Linked DNA regions of Homo sapiens. The protein of the gene in region 2 purifies or fractionates together with the protein of the main gene of each other region. This does not show direct contact. Each region holds a gene or a part of one and is shown on either strand. Other genes may lie near its edges.

Region 1 (5,670 bases), on a different chromosome or scaffold from region 2:
GCTGCATCCCAGGGTCCCGCCCAGTGCCCCGCACCCCGGCGGTCACCTGGTGTAGGAGTACTTGTTGTTACTGCGGTTGTGCAGGAGCTTCACCACGGGCTGGCGGGGGAGAGAGGATGGACGAGAGGGGTGAGGCTGCAGGGAGAGGCCCCCCCAGTGAGCCTCCACCCTGCAGGGCTTGGGGGCCTCACCTTGGAGGTGCTGGCCAGGAGCTGCTGCTCCTCCCGGGGAGATGTCACCATGGGGATGAGGCACAGCGGGGACAGCGTCTCCCTTTTTTGCTGGGGAAGAAGCGGAAGGTGGTTAACAGCACAACCAAAGGCCACGTACTCCCCCACTTAAAAGCCTTCAAAAGCTGGTTGGGAACAACTCCAGACTCCTCAGTGGTCCGCAGGGCTCTGCAGGCTCCAAGCTCCGCCAGCCTCTCTGCCACTCTCCCTTTGCTTGCTGGGCCTTGGTCCCACGGACACCTTGCTGCTTCACACATCCAGCTTGTGCCTGCCCCGGCCACTGGCTGTGCCCCTGCCCGGGATGCTTCTTTGCTCAGCTGTCAGCGTGGCGTGTCCGTCATGCCATTCAGATCGCAGGTCACACAGTGCCTCCTCAGGGCCAGCCCTCCCCAGCCCCCCTGGCTAAAACAGCCTCCTCTACATCCTGCCTTTTGTGTTATCAGTTTTCTTTTTCTTTTTTTGAGACAGAGTTTCGCTTGTTGCCCAGGCTGGAGTGCAATGGCGCCATCTCGGCTCACTGCAACCTCCACCTCCCGGGTTAAAGCAATTCTCCTGCCTCAGCCTCCTGAGTAGCTGGGATTACAGGCATGTGCCACCACACCCAGCTAATTTTGTATTTTTAGTAGAGACGAGGTTTCTCCATGTTGGTCAGGCTGGTCATGAACTCCCGAACTCAGGTGATCAGCCCGCCTCAGCCTCCCAAAGTGCTGGGATTACAGGCGTGAGCCACTGCACCAGGCCTATCAGTTCATTTTCTACACAGCAGTTAGTGTCTGACTTTTTCTAACTTTTTGTATTTGTTTATGATCTGTCTCTTCCCACCTAGGAATAACTACCTAGTATACAGCTGATGCTCTGTATTTGTTGAATGAATGAACATATTTGTTGAGTGAATGAACTTCATTGGGTGGGATGACGTTGGAGAAAGAAATCTGAAGCAAACCCATGGGCTTCTTTCTCTTCTGTCTTCTAGAATCTTCATGCCAAAATCCCTCTCACTTCTCCCAACCTTGAAAACTCAATGCGCAATTCTAATACAAATTCCAGATTTGTTTTTTGCAGAAACTCATAAGACTCTCTAAAATTAACAGAGAATAATAAAAGTCTACAATTACTGAGGCCATTTTTTTTTTTTTTTTTTTTTTGAGACAGGGTCTTGCTGTCATCCAGGCTGAGTGCAGTGGCATGACCACAGCTTACAGCAGCCTTGACCTCCTGGGCTCAAGCCATCCTCCCAAACTTAGGTCAGTTTTTAAAAATAAGAGCAAAGAGGAAAGGCCGACCCTGCCAGATATTAAGATAGGCTGCAAAGCCACAACAGTGAGAACGGTATCAGTTCGGGCACAGAAACAAAAATACCTGAGAAACACAACAGAGCGATCAGAAACAGACCACTGTGTATATGAGAATTGGTATTTTTAAAAAGACACCACAAATGTGCGAGGGGAATTACGGAGTATGAATTCGTTATCTATCACTGTGTAACAAACTGCCCCCAATTTAGGAGCTTAAATTAACAATATTTATTACTTCTGTTTCTGAGGGTCAGGATCTCAGCAGTGGCTCGGCTGGGTGGCTCCGGCACAGGGTCTCTTCTGAGGCTGTGGCCAAGATGTCAGTGGGGCTGTGGGCATCAAAGGCATGACCGCCCCTAGAGGATGCACTCTGAGAAAGCTTGTTCATGTGGCTGGCAAGTTCGCACTAGCTGCTGGCAGGAAACAACAAATCCCTGCCATGTAGATCTCTCCACAGGGTTGCTTGAGTATCCTCGCAGCATGGCAACTGGCTTCTCCAGAGCAAATAATTCCAGAGAGGGCAAGGTGGAAGCCTCATTGTCTTTTTTATTTTTGAGATGGAGTCTCACTGTGTCGCCCAGGCTGGAGTGCAGTGGCGTAATATCGGCTCACTGCAACCTCCGCCTCCCAGGTTCAAGTGATTTTCCTGCCTCAACCACCCAAGTAGCTGGGATTACCGAGGTGTGCCATCACGCCCAGCTAATTTTTGTATTTTTAGTAGAGACAGGGTTTCACCATGTTGGCCAGGCTGGTCTCAAACTCCCGACCTCAGGTGATCCACTCGCCTCAGCCTCCCAAAGTGCTGGGATTACAGACGTGAGCCACAGCGCCGGGCCCCTCCATTGTCTTTTATGACCTAGGTCTGTTGGTCCTATCCAGTGAGGAAGGAGATGACACACAGGAACGAGCACCAGGGGACGAGAATCATCAGGCTGCCTTGGTGGCTGGCTCCACAGGCCACCGCTGGCTCTCAGTGATTTCCCCCCTCCCACATGCCAAATATACTCACCACCTTCCAGGATCCCCCATCATCCCATTACAGCATCAGCTCAAAGTACAGAATCTCATCATCTCAGTCAGGTCCAGGTGGGGATGTGGCTCTAGCATGCAGTTCCGTAACTATGGCTCCTTAAGTGCATTTCTTTTTTTTTTTTTTTTTTGAAATGGAGTCTTGCTCTGTCTCCCAAGCTGAAGTGCAGAGCCACCACCATCTCACCTCACTGAAAACTCTGCTTCCCAGGTTCAAGTGATTCTCTTGCCTCAGCATCCCAAGTAGCTGGGACTACAGGCATGCACCACCATCCCAGCTAATTTTCTTTAGTAGAGACGGGATTTCACCATGTTGGCCAGGCTCGTCTTTAACTCCTGACCTCAGGTGATCCACTTGCCTTGGCCTCCCAAAGTGTTGGGATTACAGGCGTGAGCCACCGCATCCAGCCCTTAAGTGCATTTCCTATCTGCAGACCTGTGAGCTAAAGAGACAGGTCATCTCCACACTCCCAGTGTGCAGTGGTAGAGGCAGGCACAGGATAACCAGTAAGGACATTCTTGCTCAAAAGCAGGGGAAGCCGGGCGTGGTAGCGTGTGCCTGTCATCCCAGCTACTCAGGAGGCCAAGGTGGGAGGATTACTTGAGCCCAGGAGTTCGAGACCAGCCTGGGCAACATAGCAAGACTCTGTCTCAAAAAAAAAAAAAAGTGGGGCAGGGGACAGGAGGCACATATAAGTCATACATATAAGTCACTGGTGTGTGGAAATTCTGTAATCCAGTTGGAGAAATGCTAGGAACTCTTTGATGCCTACTCCTGTTCATGAATGATTCTCCATGGCTCTCCCTGAGTCGTCCCACCTCTTCCATGAAAGATGTTTGCAGCTCCACAGTTTCATCTGCCTGCTTCCTGCCTGTAAAAGTTTGGGTGTGCAAAGCCGTCTTGTCCTTTTGCACTGGCTCTGTCCCTTTCAGTCCAAGCTGGCAGTGTCTCTGCCAATATAATTCTCTTCATAACTTATTGGGTATCTTGCATGTCTTAGGGTTCACTACATTAGAAAAAAGCCACACCTAGAAATCTCTGCAAGTGGCCAGGCACAGTGGCTCACGCCTGTAATCCCAGCACTTTGGGAGGCCGAGGTGGGTGGATCACCTGAGGTCAGGAGTTTGAGACTAGCCTGACCAACATGGTGAAACCCCATCTCTACTAAAAATACAAAAATTAGCTGGGCGTGGTGGTGGGCACCTGTAATCGCAGCTACTCAGGAGGCTGAGACAGGAGAATCACTTGAACCCAGGAGGAGGAGGTTGCAGTGAGCTATCTCAAAAAAAAAAAAAAGAAAAGAAAAAGAAAAAAGAAAATCTCTGCAAGGTAAGCCCTTCTCTACTTTGGGCTTGTGCTGAGACGCTGAAAGACAACACCTTTAACCTTCTCAGAAGCGTGATTATTATTTCATTCGACTGGAAGTCCCCTCTGAGGCATCTTGTTGGTATTTCTGAGGTCTTAACAAAGGACTTTTTCATCACATCCTCAGCTTGACCTTTAGACCACATTTCCCTGTATTTAATGCCTTGTATTTAATCTTTGCACGGAAGCCATTTGTTAATTTTAACATCACTTGTTATCTGGAAAGGCTGGGAATTTTCAAACCCAACAATTTCAGGCTCTTTTTCATTTAAGTGTTTTTTTTCTTTAACTTACTCTCTCCTCTTCAGTTTTACTATAAGCAGCAAGAAGCCAGGTGGCACCTTCAACATTCTGTCTGGAAAGCTCCTTAGCTAGACCATCCGTTCCTTAGGTATATTTCCTACCCTCCACACTAATGCAGGAGACAGTGTTGCTAAACTTTCTGCCGCTACACAAGGATCTCCTTTCCATCAGTTTCCAATAGCATTTTCCTAACTGTTCTTCAAGCCCTTATTGCAGCTGTCTTAAAGGTCACTGGACTCTTATTAACAGACTTTCTCACCTTTTTTCTTTTAATTTTTTTAGAGACAAGGTCTCACTATATTGCTCAGGCTGGTCTCGAACTCCTGAACTCAAGTGATCCTCCCACCTTGGCCTCCAAAAGTTATGGTATTACAAGTGTGAACCACTGTGCCCAGCCAATACTTTTTAACACTCCTTAAGCTTTTACTAACAATCTCCTCAAAGTCCTTCCAGCTTCTTCCCACTTCTCAGTTGTAAAGTTACTTCTACATTTGAGGTTTCTGTTATGGCAGACCCCCATTCCAGAAACCAAAGTCTGTTCTCTGTTACTGGGTAACAAATTACTACAAACTCAGCAGCTTAAAACAACAGTCCAGGTGTGGAGGCTCATGCCTGTAATCTCAGCATTTTGGGAGGCCAAGGCTGGAGGACTGCTTGAGGTCAGGAGTTCGAGACCAGCCTGGCCGACAGAGCAAGACTCTGTCTCTATTTAAAAATAAATAAATAAAAATAAACATTATCTCACATAGTTTCTGTGGGTCAGGAATTTGGGATGGGCTTAGCTGGGTGGCCCTGGCCCAGAATCTGTCATGAAGCTGCAGTCTGGATTTTGGCTAGGGCTGCAGTCATCAGAAGGTTTGCCTGGGCCTAGAAGCTCTGGTTCTGAGACAGGTCACCACTATGGCGGGGAGTCTGTGCTTGCTGTCGGCAGGGGCTTCAGTTCCTCACCAAGTGGACCTCTGCTTAGGGATGCCTGAGTGTCCTCACATAGCATTCACATAGAGTGAGTGATCTCAAAGAGAGGCAGAAGCTGTAATGTCTTTTATGACCTAGCTTCAAAGTCACATGCTGTCATTTCTGCAATGTCCTATTGGTCATACACAAGGGTCTCCTTGGTGAGGATCTGAAAAGGTCTGCCCTATTTGGTGTGGGAGGGGACTGAACAAGAGCCTGGAAACCAGGAGGCAAGAACCCCTGGTGGCTGTCTTGGGTGCTGGCTACCTCTGGACTGTTTAATACCTGGCACTGGGAAAACTACCTCACCCTATGGAAGACAAAAATGAGCTAAATCCCTTCACAATCATATTTACAAAAGTGAGTTCCATTTAGATTAAAATACCCATATATGAAAAAAATCCATATTTAAAACTATAGGTCAGGTATAGCGGATCACACCTGTAATCCCAGCACTTTGGGAGGCCGAAGTGGGCAGATCGCTTGAGCTCAG
Region 2 (5,670 bases):
GAGTTTATCATAAAAGCTTGCCCAGCTTAAGAGAATATAACTATGTCACCTGCAAATAGGAAAATGAGCACCTTCCTGTTTTGTACAATGTAGATCGGAATATCCAGTTTATCAAAAAGTGGTCTCCAGTCATTAAAGTAGTCCAACCCTACAGACATTTTTGGGGGAGCACAATGTGTGCACCCCTACTATTCTAAATCCTGGTGGGTATGCAGCTGGACTTCCTGGTGCTTAAGCAGGGTGGGGGTGGCAGGGGAGGTAAGAACACACTCCTGTGTCTCCTCCCTCTGGGGCCCTTGCTCTGGGACTCACTCTTACTGGAGTACTGAAGTGGGGGTTTTCTGCCACTCGGTACCGAGGGAGTCCATTTTGAATTGGTGTGTCTTAATCCAAAATGGATCCCTGGCCAGGCCTGGTGGCTCACACCTGTAATTCCAACATTGTGGGAGGCCAAGGCGGAAGAGCTGCTTGAGACCAGGAGTTCAAGACCACCTGGTCAACAGAGCAAGACTCCAGTCTCCACAAAAAATAAGAAAAATAGCTGGGTGTGGTGGTGCGCACCTGTAGTCCTGGCTACTTGCCAGGATGAAGCAGCAGGCTGCTTCAGCCCAGGAATTTGAGGTTACGGTGAGCTCTGATCACACCATTGTACTCCAGCGTGAGCAAGAGTGAGACCCTGTTTCCAAAATAAAATACCAAAACAAAACCCTGATTCTTGTCCTGGAAACAGATGGCAGAAAAAGATAAAAGCCACAGTCCACCACACGCCTCCCAACATATTTCTTTTTTTCTCTTTTTTTTTTTTTTTTTTTGAGACGGAGTCTTGCTCTGTCGCCCAGGCTGGAATGCAGTGGTGCGATCTTGGCTCGCTGCAACCTCTGCCTCCCGGGATCAATTGATTCTCCTGACTTAGCCTCCCAAGTAGCTGGGATTACAGGCGCCCACCACCACGCCCAGCTAATTTTTGTGGTTTTAGTAGAGACGGGGTTTCACCAGGCTGGCCAGGCTGGTGTCGAACTCCTGACCTCAGGTGATCCGCCCGCCTCGGCCTCCCAAAGTGCTGGGATTACAGGTGTGAGCCACTGCACATGGTGGGAAGAGCACAGCTGGCCATACCTAGGACTAGCCCGATCTGTGTGTCAGCCACTGACCCATTTTACCAGTGAGGAAATTGAGGCTCAGGGAGGTTAAGTAACTTGCCTGTGGTCACACAGGGAACAAGGGCAGAGCCAGAATGTCAACGGAGGAGTGTGCACCCTTTCAACTACACTCTGTGCGCAATGTTTAACCGGAGCCTCGTGTATTCATTTGTAAGTCACAGAAAATAATTATATTTACAGGGGGAATCTAAAGATTTCAGGGGACAACCTGTAGACTGACTCTCATTTAGCAGGGGCCCAATAAGCGATTATGCCCATCCACTTGAGCTTGTATTGACGTAACTACTCTCCTCATGACTACCACTCAAAGAATATACAAAGGACCTCTCATTTTCCCAGAAATAACCTCTCTATATGAACAGGCACAGCCAATGTGGAATGGCCTTATGTCTACTGAGCACATCACATGCACAGCTCTTCATTTCATCCCCACACTAATCATGTAATACAGGCATGACTGTCCCTATCTGACAGAGGAGGAAACAGGGTAGAGTTTAAATCAACAAGAAAGTACTTTCTCTCCACTATACCAGCACATAAGCGGGACTCAATCTCATTTAAATAAGTTCTATTTTCTTTATCCAAATAAGAAGGCTGTTATTTGATCACATAGTTAATAATAAAGATGTGTTCAGACCACAAATGGGGATACACACACACACACACACACACCCCTCTACAAACACATGTAAAATTAAATCACAGTCCTGCCATAAATAAAGCCTTTTTCTTTAATAATATCATGATTACTACCTTTGTTTTTGTGCTGAGGAGGGATTAAACTATACAAAATTTTAGAGTCCAACGTGTCTTTGGGCTGACAGGAAAGGCTGGGCAATCTGGGAAATGAATCCCTCCCTCTCTCCCACAATCATCAGGATCCAGGCCCCCAGATGGGCTGGGCAGTGCTCTTTGTTCAGAGACCTCATTTCTCGTGGCCTAAGACAAGGAAGGAACGCAGCTGGTGCTCCATGCCTAGGAGTGCCCCTCTGTTTATCTGGCATCCAAGTGGCTGCTGACACCCCATTCCAAGCCTACCAAGCCCCGAAGGACCTTCCAAGTTGGCAGAAAGGACTCCTTGGACCCCTCTGACCAGGGCCAGGAGCCCTCCCTTATCAAACCTGTAGAGCCAGGCAGGGTGGCCATGCCCTTGAATTTCCTCCACACACAGGGCACTAGCAGCTTTGTTTCACCCCAGGCCCTGATCATGGGGCCCACAGAGAGGGGTCCCAGGTAGAGGGACAGTTTGGAAAGGGTCGGCATGGATGGGATGGCCTGTGGAGCGAGATAGAGAAAGAGTGTGCAAGGGACCCAAAATGGAGGAAAAATAAACAGGCGTCCTGTTTACTAAACATGGGCCCCTGGAACTACTGGCCTGACCCCACCTGTGGGCTGTTCTGCATGGTGGAGAGGACAGGCCTCTGGTCTCAAGTCCTTGCTCTGTCACTTCTTAGTGGTACAGTCCTGGATGAATCTCTTAAACTCCCTGAGCCTCAGTTTCTTTGCCTATAAAGTGGGAATAATAATATCTACCTCAATGAATTTCTGTGAGGCCCAATAAGAAGCACTCCCTGAACCCAGTCTAGATTGGGTCCCATGTTGTCACTCCTGTGATGCCATGCATTAAATACAGGGCTATAGTTGAAGTTGCTCTACCACTTATTAACTGTGGAAAAGTTAGTAAAGTTTGCCATGCCTCAGTTTCTTCCTCTGTAAAACAGAGATAATTATAGAGATTATATAATTATGTGAGAGTACTAAAGTTAAATGAGTTGGCATATGTAAAGTGCCGAGAGCAGCGTCTGCTACATAGTAAACTGAACATAAGTGATGGCTATTATTATTATTCTTTGAAACTGAATTCTTGACATTTGACATGTCTTTTACACTAGACTATAATTTATTCATCCTTATAGATATGTACTGAGCACCCATCATGTATGGATGCTGCTCCAAATGCCAGAACACAGTGATAACACAGACAAGGCCTCTGCTCTCATGAAGCTTAGAGTCTAGTGGCAGTGGCAGAAAACCAAAAAGAGAATGCCAAGTCTAACGAGTGCTATGGGAAGAATAAAAGAGGGTGAGATCTAAGAACATGTGGTCAGGAAGGCTTCTCTTGGGCCTCAGGAGCATCGAGGAGCCAGCCGTGGAAAGATCTGGGGCAAGAGGGTTCTAGGCAGACAGAACGCAAGTGCCAAGGCCTTGAGGCAGGAATGCGCTTGGCACATCTGAGGACCAGCAGGGTCTGTGTGGCAGGAAGGTAGATCATGTGGGGGCTTGGGGCCAGGGTAAGGGCTTAGGTTTTATTATAAAAGATGGGAAGTCAATTCAGCTGAGGTGGGGGATAGTGGTGACATGATCTGGCTTATATTTTAAATAGATCCAAAATGACTGCTGGGTAGACAGTGGCTTAGAGTCAGTCTCCCCAAGCAGTCATTTTGGATCTATTTAGTACCTCCACTTCAGTACTACAGTAAGAGTGAGGTGGAGGTTATAAGCAAGGAGACAAATTAGGAGACACGATGAAAAATGACAGTGGCTTAGACTATCTAAGCTGCCCCTACTTTAGATACCTTTCTCAAACAACTCTGCTCAGGAGGTACTAATATTATCATCCCGATTTTACAGATGTAGAAACTATGGCATAGAGGCCAGGTGCAGTGGCTCACGCCTATCATCCCAGCACTTTGGGAGGCCAAGGTGGGAGGATCACTTGAGCCCAGGAGTTCGAGACCAGCCTAAGTAACGTAACAAAACCCTGTCTCTACGAAAAATAGAAAAATTAGCTGGGCGTGGGGTGCACGCCTTTAATCCCAGCTACTGGAGAGGCTGACGCACAAGAATCACTTGAACCCGGGAGGCAGAGGGTGCAGTGAGCCAAGATTACGCCACTACACTCCAGCCTGGGCGACAGAGCAAGACTGTCTCAAAAAAAGAAAAAGAAAAAAAAAGTATGGCATAGAGGGGTTAAATAACTTTCCCAAGGCACACAAATACGGGGAGCTGAGGTGCAAACCCAAGTAGTCTGATCTACAGCCTGTGTGCTTAACCACCACACCACACTGCTTCCTAGACAAGTAAAAATTGCCCCAGGAACATGAAGGCAGAGACCCTATTTGTATTCTAGATAGCACTGGCCTGGCACAAAGTAAACCCTCAATAAATGTTTGTTGAATGAATGAATGAATGATGTGGAAATACTTTTGTAAATTGAGAAATGCTCATGTAGACATTCTTATTGCTAAGTCCTTCAACTAATAGAAATTCCATTGATCTCACACTTTTGTCTAATGCTTAATACATTTTCCAGGGAAAAAGAAAAGAACTAAGGCAGGACACTTATTAGAGGCAAACAGTAGCTTGACAAACCTGGCCTGGGACAGATTCAAGAGGTCCGGCTAGGAAAACTCCCGAGGTTGGCATCTTGTCCATTAGAGCCTCCAGAACTTGGAGAAAGTTCCATTCTACCCAAGGAATCATCTGCCCACCCCCATCCTCTATCTTTCTATCTATTCTATTTAAATTGTCAGTTTACATGACACTTTCAAGCATTTTTCTCATGCAGATGGGAAAATATTTAAAATCTGGGTGGCCTCAAGAGAAAGGCCTGATACAAATAATATAATACTTCTTACTTCTGAACGATGGTTGGATACACATATTCATGGCAAGAGAACAGCCTTTTGTCTTCCTGGCCCACTTACTGTCTTTGGAGTCATTTCTTTGGGTATGGCCTGGGCGGTCCCAGCAGGAAGGCTGTGTGGGCTTCTCCCCAGTGAAATCCAGAACCATGAGCCATTCTTGCCCTGTTTCACACGGTCAGGAGGGAGAAAGGGCGCTGGCAGATGAAGGAAGCCCAGAGCTGGAAGGGACCCTAGCCAAACCCTAACATTTTACAGTCAGCTGGATTCTGGTGCCCTTTCCACTGTATCCTGGGGGCTTTCTCACACTTTTGCAATGGAGTGAATCCCTTTTTAATGATCTCCCACTCCTTCCAAAAAGAACACTTATTTACTTACTTTACCTACAGTTAAGATGGGCTTACAGGCATTAATATTATTGTTCAGTTGGCTCTTCTGGAGGTATTCTGATTAGCCCCATTTTACAGGTGGGAAAACCAAGGCTCTTTAAAAAATGAGACAAGCTCTAAATTCTGGGAAACCCCAGGTCTCTAACCCCAAATTTGTGGGGCTCTTGCTGTGTGTTAGGGACTATTCGGTGCGTTACCTATATGAACGCCTGGGTGCTGGCATTATTATACCTATTTTTTTGGATGTGGAAACTGAGCTCAGGGTGGGTATTTGAGCACAGTCACAGAGCCAGAACTCAAATCTGGCTGTCACACAAGGCCATCCCTCTTCTGGAGTGCCACTTGTGGAATGCCCAGGTGGATCCCTGCCCTCCTCAGGGGGTGCGTGTGGGCGGAGGGAATGCTTTATCGGCCAGGCATACATAAGCCTTCACCTCTCCAGGACCAAGAAAGGCGGTCTTGCAGTCTCCCTAACTC
Region 3 (5,670 bases), on a different chromosome or scaffold from region 2:
CTCTGCAGAATTCCTTAAATTTTGCAAAAAAGCAGTTTGACAACCAGTGCTCTAACATATGGGTCAGCAAACTATGGGCCATGGAAAATCCAGCCCAATCAATGCTATTTATGTAAATAAAGTTGTAGTGGTTACAGTTAAACCTAGTCTTCATGTAGTATACACAGCGGAGTTAAGTGGCTGTCACAGAGATCCTCTGGCTCACAAAATCTATCTGGCTCTTTACAGAAAAAGTTTGCCAAACCCCTGCTCCAATATATAATGTGACTTAATTTCTATAAAAATCAAAAGTTCTTACCATTTCTAATAGATTTATAGACAAAAAACTCAATAATCAAGGAGCAGTTTTTCCTATTCATATGCTTGTACTTGCTTAATGATACAAGGAATTTTTTAAAAGATTTAATAAAGTGAAAATACCTGGTGGGGGCAAGTAACCATGAAAAAGGACACTGCCACAAGAGGAACGCTCCAATTCTTCACATAAGAGAAGCCTTCTTACTAAAAACATTTCAAAGCAAACTTGTCAAGAGTACATGCAAACAGAAAAACAGTACTCCATTTTTATTTTCTCTAGTTCAAGAGGATAAGGAAAGAAAAGGAAAATTTTAATTAAGTCAGAGTTGACAACATCTTTTTACTATGAAAATCCACAAAAACTAAGCACTGAACAAGTCCATCAAAAATTAGGACCTGATATAAACACATTTCATTTAGGGCAACTTTCATACATGAGTCAAATCATAAACACCAAATATTAAAAGAGCACATACCTAATGGAGTGATCCCGTAAAATTCTGCTTCATGCCTGAGAACATTAATACTCACTCCCCTACAAAGAAACAAATGATGTAAATTCTCTAACACTGGAAACCTGTATTATCATCTGACATGAAAGGAAAAAATTCTAGGTTCTTCATGTATATAGTCATAAGGCTTTAAAAATTATTTTCCTCCTAATACTCTTTATTTCTATTATCCTTAATCATTAAAAAGTGTAAATAAAAACTGCATGTGAACAAAAATATTCTGTTATCTACTTAAAAACCATTCATATATATACATATATATGAATTGGGTCACTAAAGGAGAGATTAGGGCTCTATCAGGCTAGTACAAATAAATTGTCTAGAAGGCAAACGATAGAATGGAAACCATTCTTTTATGGCATTAGTTGCTTTTAACTTTTTATCGCAATTATTTCTATACATATCTATCTTAATCTCCCCAATTACACTATAAATTCCCTGCGAGCATGATCTATTTCTGATCTATGTTTGTATACCTCACAGTGCCTAGCATAGTGCTTGTATAAAATAGTTATGTAATAAATATTTGTTGAACAAATAAAATAGAAAAAAAAAAAAGACTAGCCTTGGGAAGGGCTATGTTATCCAGATGAAATGATGCTACTTCATAGTAGTAAAGTTAAGTAACATGAAATAAAATTTTTAAAAAATGGAAGATTCAGAACTTATAATACTAATAATTCATCTTAGGTTTCAGTTGTAATTTGTCCTTATTTTAAAAATATTCCCCAGCCTTGATAAATATATACAATTACTATGTTAAATTGTTTTTATTTGTGAAACTGGTTATGACTAGTTTAACATTAAAAATGCTTAAAACTTTGTGTCTGGGGGCGGTGGCTCACACCTGTAATCCCAGCACTTTGGGAGGCCAAGGCGGGTGGATTACGAGGTGAGGAGATGGAGACCATCATGACTAAAACGGTGAAACCCCATCTCTACTAAAAATACAAAAAAATTAGCCGGGTGTGGTGGCGGGTGCCTGTAGTCCCAGCTACTTGGGAGGCTAAGGCAGGAGAATGGCGTGAACCCGGGAGGTGGAGATTGCAGTGAGTCTGGGTGACAGAGTAAGACTCAGTCTCAAAAAAAAAAAGCTTCAAACTTTCTTATTCTATTTCGAAACTATTTGTGTTAACAGTACAGCAGTACTGGCCAGAGGCATGATCATAACTCACTGCAGCCTCAAACTCCCGGCCTCAAGGGATCCTCCTGCCTCAGCTTCTTCTCTAGAGTAGCTGGGATTATAGGCGTGTACCACCACATCCAGTTTCAGTGTGAGGAAACTTTTAATCAAAGTCTTAGTAAAAAAAAAAAAACCTTTTCTGGCTGGGCGTAGTGGCTCATTCCTGTAATCCCTGCACTTTGGGAGGCTAAGGCGGGGAGACTGCCTGAGCTCAGGCGTTTGCAATCAGCCTGGGCAACACAGTGAAACCCCTTCTCTACTAAAATACAAAAAATCAGCCGGGCATGGTGGCATGTGCCTACAGTCCCAGCTACTCGGGAGGCTGAGGCAGGAGAATTGTTTGAACCTGAAAGGCGGAGGTTGCAGTGAGCAGAGATCATGCCACTGCACTCCTGCACTCCAGCCTGGGCAACAGAGCAAGACTGCAACTCAAGGAAAAAAAAAAACAAACAAAAAAAACCTTTTATTTCATAAAACATATTAAAAACACATATTTATCAGTAAGAATTTACTTTAAAAAGAGTGCATTTCTTACCTTAAGTCTAGTTCTTTTGTCCGAAGAAAATTTAAAATGGGTGCAAATGCTGCTGGATCTCTATCAATAAATATCTGTAAAAAAGAGAACAGTTTTATTTTCAAATTACAAATTAATCTTTTAACTTTAATATCTGTAACACTAATAGGGAATGAAGTCTTAATTACTTAAATACTACATTTCCTTGTTTCCACTCTTAAACTTTAATGTTTCTAAAATTGGAATGTAGTCTGTGTGCATTTCATGAGATGGTGTCTTTTTCTTGAGATGGTGTCTTTTTCTTCCTCTGAATAGTTATTATTAAACTGATATTTTAATACATAGAAAAAATCTTGTCTAATAAAATCACTTGTATTGATACCTTTGGTAAAAGTGACACCTGAGGAAACATTTTTATCTGAAACAGTCTAGAATTCAATTAATACTTCGAAAACATGAATAAATAATACTTTCTTATACTGTTCAATCATTAAAACTACAATGTACTTTAATAATGCACACAGGGGTACTTGAGAAAAGTAAATACTGCACACTGCTGTCAAAAGTGGAAAAGAATACTATTCTCATAATACTTTTACTAATCTCAATTTCCTTCAGAGCTGGGGAAAGGTAATGACAATTTTTTTTTTTTAAACTAAAGCACCACAGAATACATAAGAGGAAAACAAATTGCTTAAAAATGTAAAATACATAATTGGTAACTTTTGTTTGTTTGTTTGTTTTGAGACAGCATCCTGCTCTCTCATCTAGGCTGGAGTGCAGTGGCACGATCTGGGCTCACTGCAACCTCCACCTCCTAAGTTCAAGCAATTCTCCTGCCTCAGCCTCCTGAGTAGCTGGGATTAGAGGCACCTGCCACTATGCCGGGTTAATTTTTCTGTTTTTAGTAGAGAGGGGGTTTCACCATGTTGGCCATGCTGGTCTTGAACTTCTGACCTCAGGTAATCCACTTGCCTCGACCTCCTAAAGTGCTGGAATTACAGGCATAAGCCACCCCACCCAGCCCATAATTGATAACTTTTTATGGAAATTTATACCAACACCTATTTTGAATCATTTACAAAAGATCTGGCCATAAAAACGGAACATCTTTTAAAGCTTATGTAAATCAATTAGAAAGGGAAATGGCAGCCAGTAATAAAACTCTTCCTACTATGATCAACTATATATATACAATCAATGAGATTCTTCTAAGCTTTATAAATTTTCTTTTGTTTTCATTAGAGCACATCAAAAATCGAAGAGACATCACAGATTTGTGGAGATCTTATTATTGATAACTTTTTATAATTTCACATGGACATATCTGCATTTGTTGCCTTATTTCATCTGCAAATCTCACCACAGCAAATAAATACCATTGGTCACTTTGTTGCCTCCAAATGGATAAACCAATTTTTTTGCACTGAAACTTTACAATTCTTTCCTTCCCTCACTGTACCAATGCTGTATAAACAAATTCGCAAGGTTATTCTCCAAAATAAAATAAAAAACTGTAGGAGTTTACTAATTTAACCTCTTATATTCTAATATAAAAATATTAGAATATTTACATTTATCCACTTACTGTTAAAGTTTCAATTATTGATCTAAAAAAATTTCTTCTAATGCCAATGTAAGCTCATATCCTACAATCTCTCTAATCATGAATACTTAAATTGCCATATATAGTATTCCCTACTTAGGGATCTTCTCTGATTATAAAAAACTACATATGACAAGAAATAAAATTATGCCACTTTCATTCAGTGATTATTAAAATATCAGTTCTCCTATATTCTTAGAGTAACTATATGTTAGGACCAAGCACTATAAGCATTAATTTAGGAATATGTATCAATTATTATTATACTCACAGCACCAGTTTCATCTCGAAGTGTTGAAATTCTCCCACTCAGCAAACTGGAAGTCATTAATAATCTAAAGTTAGTTTTTAAAATCTGAGTATAAACAAATGTGCTAATTCTTTACCAAATGTTAAAGACCACTAAAAGTAAGTTATCTATCTTCCAAGTTCAAAAATATATAATTTTAAGAGTTAACCTTTTTTATTAAAAAAAATTTAACTGACAAACATTATTATATTTTGGTAAATAAATGTATTAAAATATACACTAAAGAATTATAAGACATACCTGGAAAAAAAAGAATCTGGAATCCACATAAGAGTTTGTCTTGAGGTACTAAATCTGCAATTAAAAATCATCTGGTATTATAAGTGAGAACATGATTTGAAATTTCAGTATTAGTTAACTTGTTTTAATACACTGGCTAATGATTTACAAGATGTTTTATAGTTATAGCTGTACCAATATATTTATTACAGTTAATATTTTTAAACGTTGCTACTTTCAATTCAGAGTTAAGATTATACAAGCAGCTCTCAATAACAATAAACAACTTGTTATCCGCCATATAATGCATCTTAAAACACTACTTTCCAATAAGCTAATCTCTGCTGAAGAATCAACAATTAGCCCATCACACCAAGTCTCAACTTCTCAGTATAACATTCAAAATTACCTTCAGGTTCCATCTCATCTCTCCAGTACAAATGCTGGTTTTCCCCTCTAATAGGACAAAACTTCTTCATATCCCCAAAAAATTCATGCTTACTACCATTTTGGTATCTTTATTCAGCTAGATCACTCTCTTCATGTCCAATAATTCAAGATCCGTCCATCTTTCTTGATACCACTCAGGTTTTACCTTCCCTGTAATAGTTTTTCTAAATATCCAATCCTGTATTATCTCTTTTTAAGCTCATAGTAATTTCACTGTAAATTACTCATTTAACACCTTCTTTATAGGCAGTCTTGGGCTATCTGCAACTGCTGACTTCATTCATTCAAAAATCATTCAGCCAAATACATCACTGTTCTGAGGTTGTCATTTGATCAAGCTTGTATATTACCAAGGGAGGATCTTTACCAAAGTACAGTATAATAGACTGGGACAACAAACCAATAATTTATGTAAACTGATATGGCAAACAAAGCAATATAGTACTTGTTCAGTCCAGCCCTTCTCTGAGTATTTTCATTTTAAGATATCACCTTGAACTACAATGTTATCTCACCCAGCCTAGCAAACCTCTACTTTCACTCCACATTTATTTTCTGGCATTATATGAAATCCCTAAA
Region 4 (4,732 bases), on a different chromosome or scaffold from region 2:
CTTCATCTCCATGGAACTAAGGTCCTTCTCACGGGGAAGGTGATAGAAACTTGACTGCAGGCCCTGGGGACTTTCATGGTTTCCTTGGGGGAAAATGCCTGCTGCCCTCCGCCCTCCCCCCCACCCCCGACCCGCTTGACTGCTCTCTTGGACCTAACCCTAGTTTGATACTGGGCCAGAACTGTGTTGCTTTCGGAGTAGAGTGGTGGGGAAAATATGGAATGAGCTTTCTCTTCCTCCAGAAGTATGACCTGAGCAGCAAGGGGAAGGCCATTCCTGGGGACGTTGGTTGCAGAGCTTCTGGTGCTCAGGGCTGGAGGGTGGTAGATATTTGACCTCTGTACTCATGTGACCCCCTCCCCGCCAAGACCTGGGGCCAGGACGTGGAGAAGCTGATCAAGGGGTACCACACCTTCATGGCTCTGGCCCTGACATTTGTCCCAGTTGTGCAGGAGTAGCTGTCACATGGGTGGTGATACCAAGACATGGCTGCGTCTGCCACCCCGAGAAAACAGATGATCAACTTTACTGTCTGCCCAGCCATTACCCTCCAAAGTCCCAGCTGCAGACAGGATGCAATTGAGCATTTGGCTTTGGGATGCTTTACTGCAGGTGCGGGGGGTATCCATCTTATATCTGGGGGCCCACACTGTCCCGTAGGGGGCCTATGTCTGTTGGATATTGCTGGTTTGGCTGCCACTGGGAGTGGGGCGAGGGTCCCAGCATTGAGAGGGAGAGCCTTAGGCAGTGTTGTGACGCACCTGTCACTCCTTCAGATCAGAGCCCTGTGCCCTAGCCACGGTTTTCAATGAGGAATGGTCTGACCTTGCTGCCCTTCCTGGGACCGCCTGTGGTGGCACAAAGGGTGCTAGAGGCACTCAGCCAGGCCCTGCCAACCGTGGGAGGGTACCCTTTGATCTGGGGGGAGAAGCAGAGAGGAGGGATGTGGTGGCCCCTGAAGTGAGAGTCCCAGTTCTGCGGAAGCCCAGTGGGAAGGAGGCTGGCAGCTCCCAAGGCCCTGCACCCAGTCTGGTCCCCTCAGCCCCCCAGAGCCCCTGGCCCAGAGCTAGGGCTTTGTGGGCCACCTGAAGGCTCCTTCCTCATGCCCCTAGGGGGCTGGCCATGCATTTCCAGTGTCTTCTTCCTTTCCCCTTTCCCTGGCTGCCACCAGGTGGGAGGTGACCCGAAGCAAGACTTGCTTTAGGAACGGGCAGCGTTTGAAGAACCCCATCAGCCTTCTCCAGCTCTTTTTTTTTTTTTTTTTTGGTTGGGGGTAAGGGGCCTGTGCCCCCTCGGCTCAGGAGGAGGGTGGGAGAGGAGGGCGTGTGCCTCAGAGAACCGTTTCCTGCCCCCAGGCCTGGAGGCCCCAAAGGCGCCAGAGGAGCTGGGAGCCCCTGTCCCTGGAGCGGAGCCAGCGCGGGCGAGGGCATGGAGGGGGCGTCGGCCCAGGACACGCGGGCGAAGGCAGCTTTTGCAGTGCAGCGTGGGGCCCGGGGGCCCGGCCCGCGACTCGACTCATCTCGATTCGACCGGCGGGCGGCGGCGAGAGGAGGCCAAGGCCTGGGCTGCCCGGTCTCTGCGCGTCCCGACTCCGCCGCGCCCGCCAGCCCCACCTGCTACTTCTTTTTGGGGAAGAAGCTGAATCTCTTCTCCTTGTCTTTCTTGCCGAGGCTGGCGTCGGGGCCGGAGAGGGAAGGCAGGGGCAGGCTCTGCGCCTTGACGCGGATGCTCTGGGACTCGTTGATGGCGGTGCTCACGCCCTGCAGCCAGGACAGCATCTCCTCCTGCGGGGCGGAGGGTCACGGTGGAGTCTGGAGGCCCACAGCCCCCCACCTCCCGGGCCAGGCAACAATGGTGGGGGCTCTTGGGACTGCCCCTTCTGAGGGGGCCTCCAGGGCAAGCGGCCTGGGGTCCTCCACCTACCCCCTTCTTAGCCAGGTCTGGGCTAGGCTGCCCGCGCTTACCTCATCCTTGCCATGGAAGAGCCACTCGCTGCCATTACTCAGCCTAGGAGGACAAAGGGTTTCCTGTCATGGAGACACCTCTGGAGGGGGCGCTGGGCAGAGGGCTGGCTCTGATCCCACAATACCCTGAGCCGAACATCCAGACCCCTCTCAGGCAGCCCAGCACTTTCTGAGAGGTCAAAGTCTGGACCATCAGCCTCTTTGATTTGAAAAACCCCTGAGGAGCAGCTCAGGCCTGGCACTGGTCCCCTACAGAGGGCCTCTGCCCTGCCACTAATGCCAAATCAAGCCATCAACCCGAGCTTTCAAAGGCCAGGAAGGCCTCACCTCAGCTTAAAGACGTGCTTCTTCTTCTTGTAGTTGGCAGCAATCTCACAGATGGCATGTCTCAGGGCCAGGGGTTCCTCCCCATGGTAGGGCATCCCCAGGGCCAGGTTCTTGGCATCCTTGTAGAAGGTTAGCTCACTGTTCCTGAGCACACAGTACAGGTTGTTCCAGGACCTGCAAAGATGCAGACAGGCAGGTCACCCACATCCTGATATGGTATCTCTAGAGTCAATTCCTATAGCTTCACCATTAAAAAAAATTACACCATGTTTGTTCTGATACATAGTAACATGTTTTATTGTTAAAAAATCATCTGCATGTAATTTCATTACAAAAAATTAGCTATTATTAACATTTTATGTATTCCTTCTAGTCTTCACATTTTCGCATTTTTTTTTTTACTAGTCACAGATAGCTAAAACTGGGTTATGGATATATTCAATTTTATATCGTGTTTCTAAGCATAACACTAAATCATGAGTATTTCTCCATATCCTCAAATATTTCTTTTTTTGCCAGGCAAGATGGCTAACACTTGTAATCCCAGCACTTTGGGAGGCCGAGGCGGGCGGACCGCCTGAGGTCAGGAGTTCAAGACCAGCCTGGCAAACGTGGTAAAACCCCATCTCTACTAAAAATACAAAAATTAGCCGGGCTTGGTGGCGCATGCCTGCAGTCTCAGCTACTCAGGAGGCTGAGACAGGAGAATCGCTTGAACCCGGGAGGCGAAGCTTGTAGTGAGCCGAGATTGAGCCACTGCACTTCAGCCTGGGTGACAGAGACGAGACTTAGTCTCAAAAAAAAAGTATATATGTAATATATATTTATATATACTTTTATTATATAATTTATATAATATTTACATATTTATTATATAACATATATACCTATTATGTATAATATATATTTATATGAAATATATAAATATATAAAATATGTATATTACATTATATATCATATACTATATAATACATATTTTATACATCATATAATGTATATTTTATACATTATATATAATACATTATATATTATACATTATGTTATATATTATATATGTAGCAATTATATATTATATAATATATAACATTTATAGTATATAACATTTATATATTATACATAATATATATAATATATAATATTTATATATAATATACATATTTTTAGACAGAGCCTCTGTCACTCAGGCTAGAATGCAGTGGTGCAGTCTCAGCTCACTGCAACCTCCGCCTCCCAGGTTCAAGCGATTTTCTTGCCTCAGCCTCCCGAGTAGCTGGGACTACAGGCGCAAGCCACCACACCCAGCTAATTTTTGTATTTTTAGTAGGGACAGGGTTTCACCACGTTGGCCAGGCTGGTCTCAAACTCCTGACCTCAGGCGATCCACCCACCTCAGCCTCCCAAGGTGCTGGGATTACAGTCCTGAGCCACCACGCCCGGCCCCTATCCTCAAATATTTCTTAAAATAATTTTGAATAGCTATGTGGAAGACTTTCACAATCCCTTTATTGATGAACCTTATAATACTGGAAAATGTGCCCATAATTTAAATAGCAATGTGATGAACATTCTTACACATAAATCTGTGCCTATAATTCTGATCTTACCTTGAAGTACACTTATAGAACTATTACGTCTTAAGACCAACAGTAAAAAATTAACTTTTTACAATATTTCTACATCCATCAGTGTATTTGATTCTCACTAAAGAACTGTGAAGGAATGAACAGGGTTTTGTTTCAGTGATTGTTTTCTGTTTTGATGAGATGTGCCAAGTATACTAAACTTTTTAAAGGAACAAATTTTACAAATAGGGCTCATGTCGGCCGGGCGTGGTGGCTCACACCTGTAATCCCAGCACTTTGGGAGGCTGAGGCAGGCGGATCATGCGGTCAGGAGTTCGAGACCAGCCTGACCAACAAGGTGAAACCCCATTTCTACTAAAAATGCAAAAAAAAAAAAAAAAATTAGCCAGGCGTGGTGGCACGTGCCTGTAATCCCAGCTACTCAGGAGGCTGAGGCAGGAGAATCACTTGAATCTGGGAGGCGGAGGTTGCAGTGAGCCAAAATTGAGCCAGTTCACTCCAGCCGGGGTGACAGAGTGAGACTCTGTCTAAACAAAACAAAACAAAACAAAACACAAAAAAAGACAAATAGGGCTCATGTCAACTGGCATGTTTGGTGAGGGAATCAAACTGATAACAGGTGGGCTAGCCCGAGCCGCTTCACTCACACGTGGGAAGCATGTTGCTGCATTTCTACAGCAACAGACTCTGTTTCCTCCTCCTCTTCATCCTCCTCTTCTGTCTCCCTCCTCTCCTCTCCCTCTTCTCCCTTACTTTTGAGGGCAGGAAGGTGGAGAAACTAGTAGGGCACATAGGGAGGAAGTTCTGGAAGGTCAGAGAGAGAAACTGACCCATACAAAGCTGGCTGCAAAGCCATTT

The links.
Region 1: the proteins of MTURN (region 2) and KCTD13 purify together in Homo sapiens (affinity purification with mass spectrometry; one large-scale study listed by BioGRID and IntAct). This does not show direct contact.
Region 3: the proteins of MTURN (region 2) and KCTD3 purify together in Homo sapiens (affinity purification with mass spectrometry; one large-scale study listed by BioGRID and IntAct). This does not show direct contact.
Region 4: the proteins of MTURN (region 2) and SPTB purify together in Homo sapiens (affinity purification with mass spectrometry; one large-scale study listed by BioGRID and IntAct). This does not show direct contact.

Annotation. Positions count from the first base shown.
Region 1 is NC_000016.10:29,911,769-29,917,438, forward strand, and holds part of KCTD13 (BTB/POZ domain-containing adapter for CUL3-mediated RhoA degradation protein 1), read right to left. Parts: intron 282-5,670; coding exon 192-281; intron 100-191; coding exon 47-99; exon of another isoform or gene 1-46. UniProt on the Homo sapiens protein: Substrate-specific adapter of a BCR (BTB-CUL3-RBX1) E3 ubiquitin-protein ligase complex required for synaptic transmission.
Region 2 is NC_000007.14:30,136,557-30,142,226, reverse strand, and holds part of MTURN (maturin), read right to left. Parts: intron 1-5,670. UniProt on the Homo sapiens protein: Promotes megakaryocyte differentiation by enhancing ERK and JNK signaling as well as up-regulating RUNX1 and FLI1 expression. Represses NF-kappa-B transcriptional activity by inhibiting phosphorylation of RELA at 'Ser-536'.
Region 3 is NC_000001.11:215,572,832-215,578,501, reverse strand, and holds part of KCTD3 (BTB/POZ domain-containing protein KCTD3), read right to left. Parts: intron 4,717-5,670; coding exon 4,663-4,716; intron 4,436-4,662; exon of another isoform or gene 4,430-4,435; coding exon 4,384-4,429; intron 2,602-4,383; coding exon 2,528-2,601; intron 833-2,527; coding exon 774-832; intron 574-773; exon of another isoform or gene 512-573; coding exon of another isoform or gene 502-511; coding exon 421-501; intron 1-420. UniProt on the Homo sapiens protein: Accessory subunit of potassium/sodium hyperpolarization-activated cyclic nucleotide-gated channel 3 (HCN3) up-regulating its cell-surface expression and current density without affecting its voltage dependence and kinetics.
Region 4 is NC_000014.9:64,747,690-64,752,421, forward strand, and holds part of SPTB (spectrin beta chain, erythrocytic), read right to left. Parts: intron 2,561-4,732; exon of another isoform or gene 2,466-2,560; coding exon 2,292-2,465; exon of another isoform or gene 2,008-2,291; coding exon 1,965-2,007; exon of another isoform or gene 1,785-1,964; coding exon 1,617-1,784; 3' UTR 1-1,616.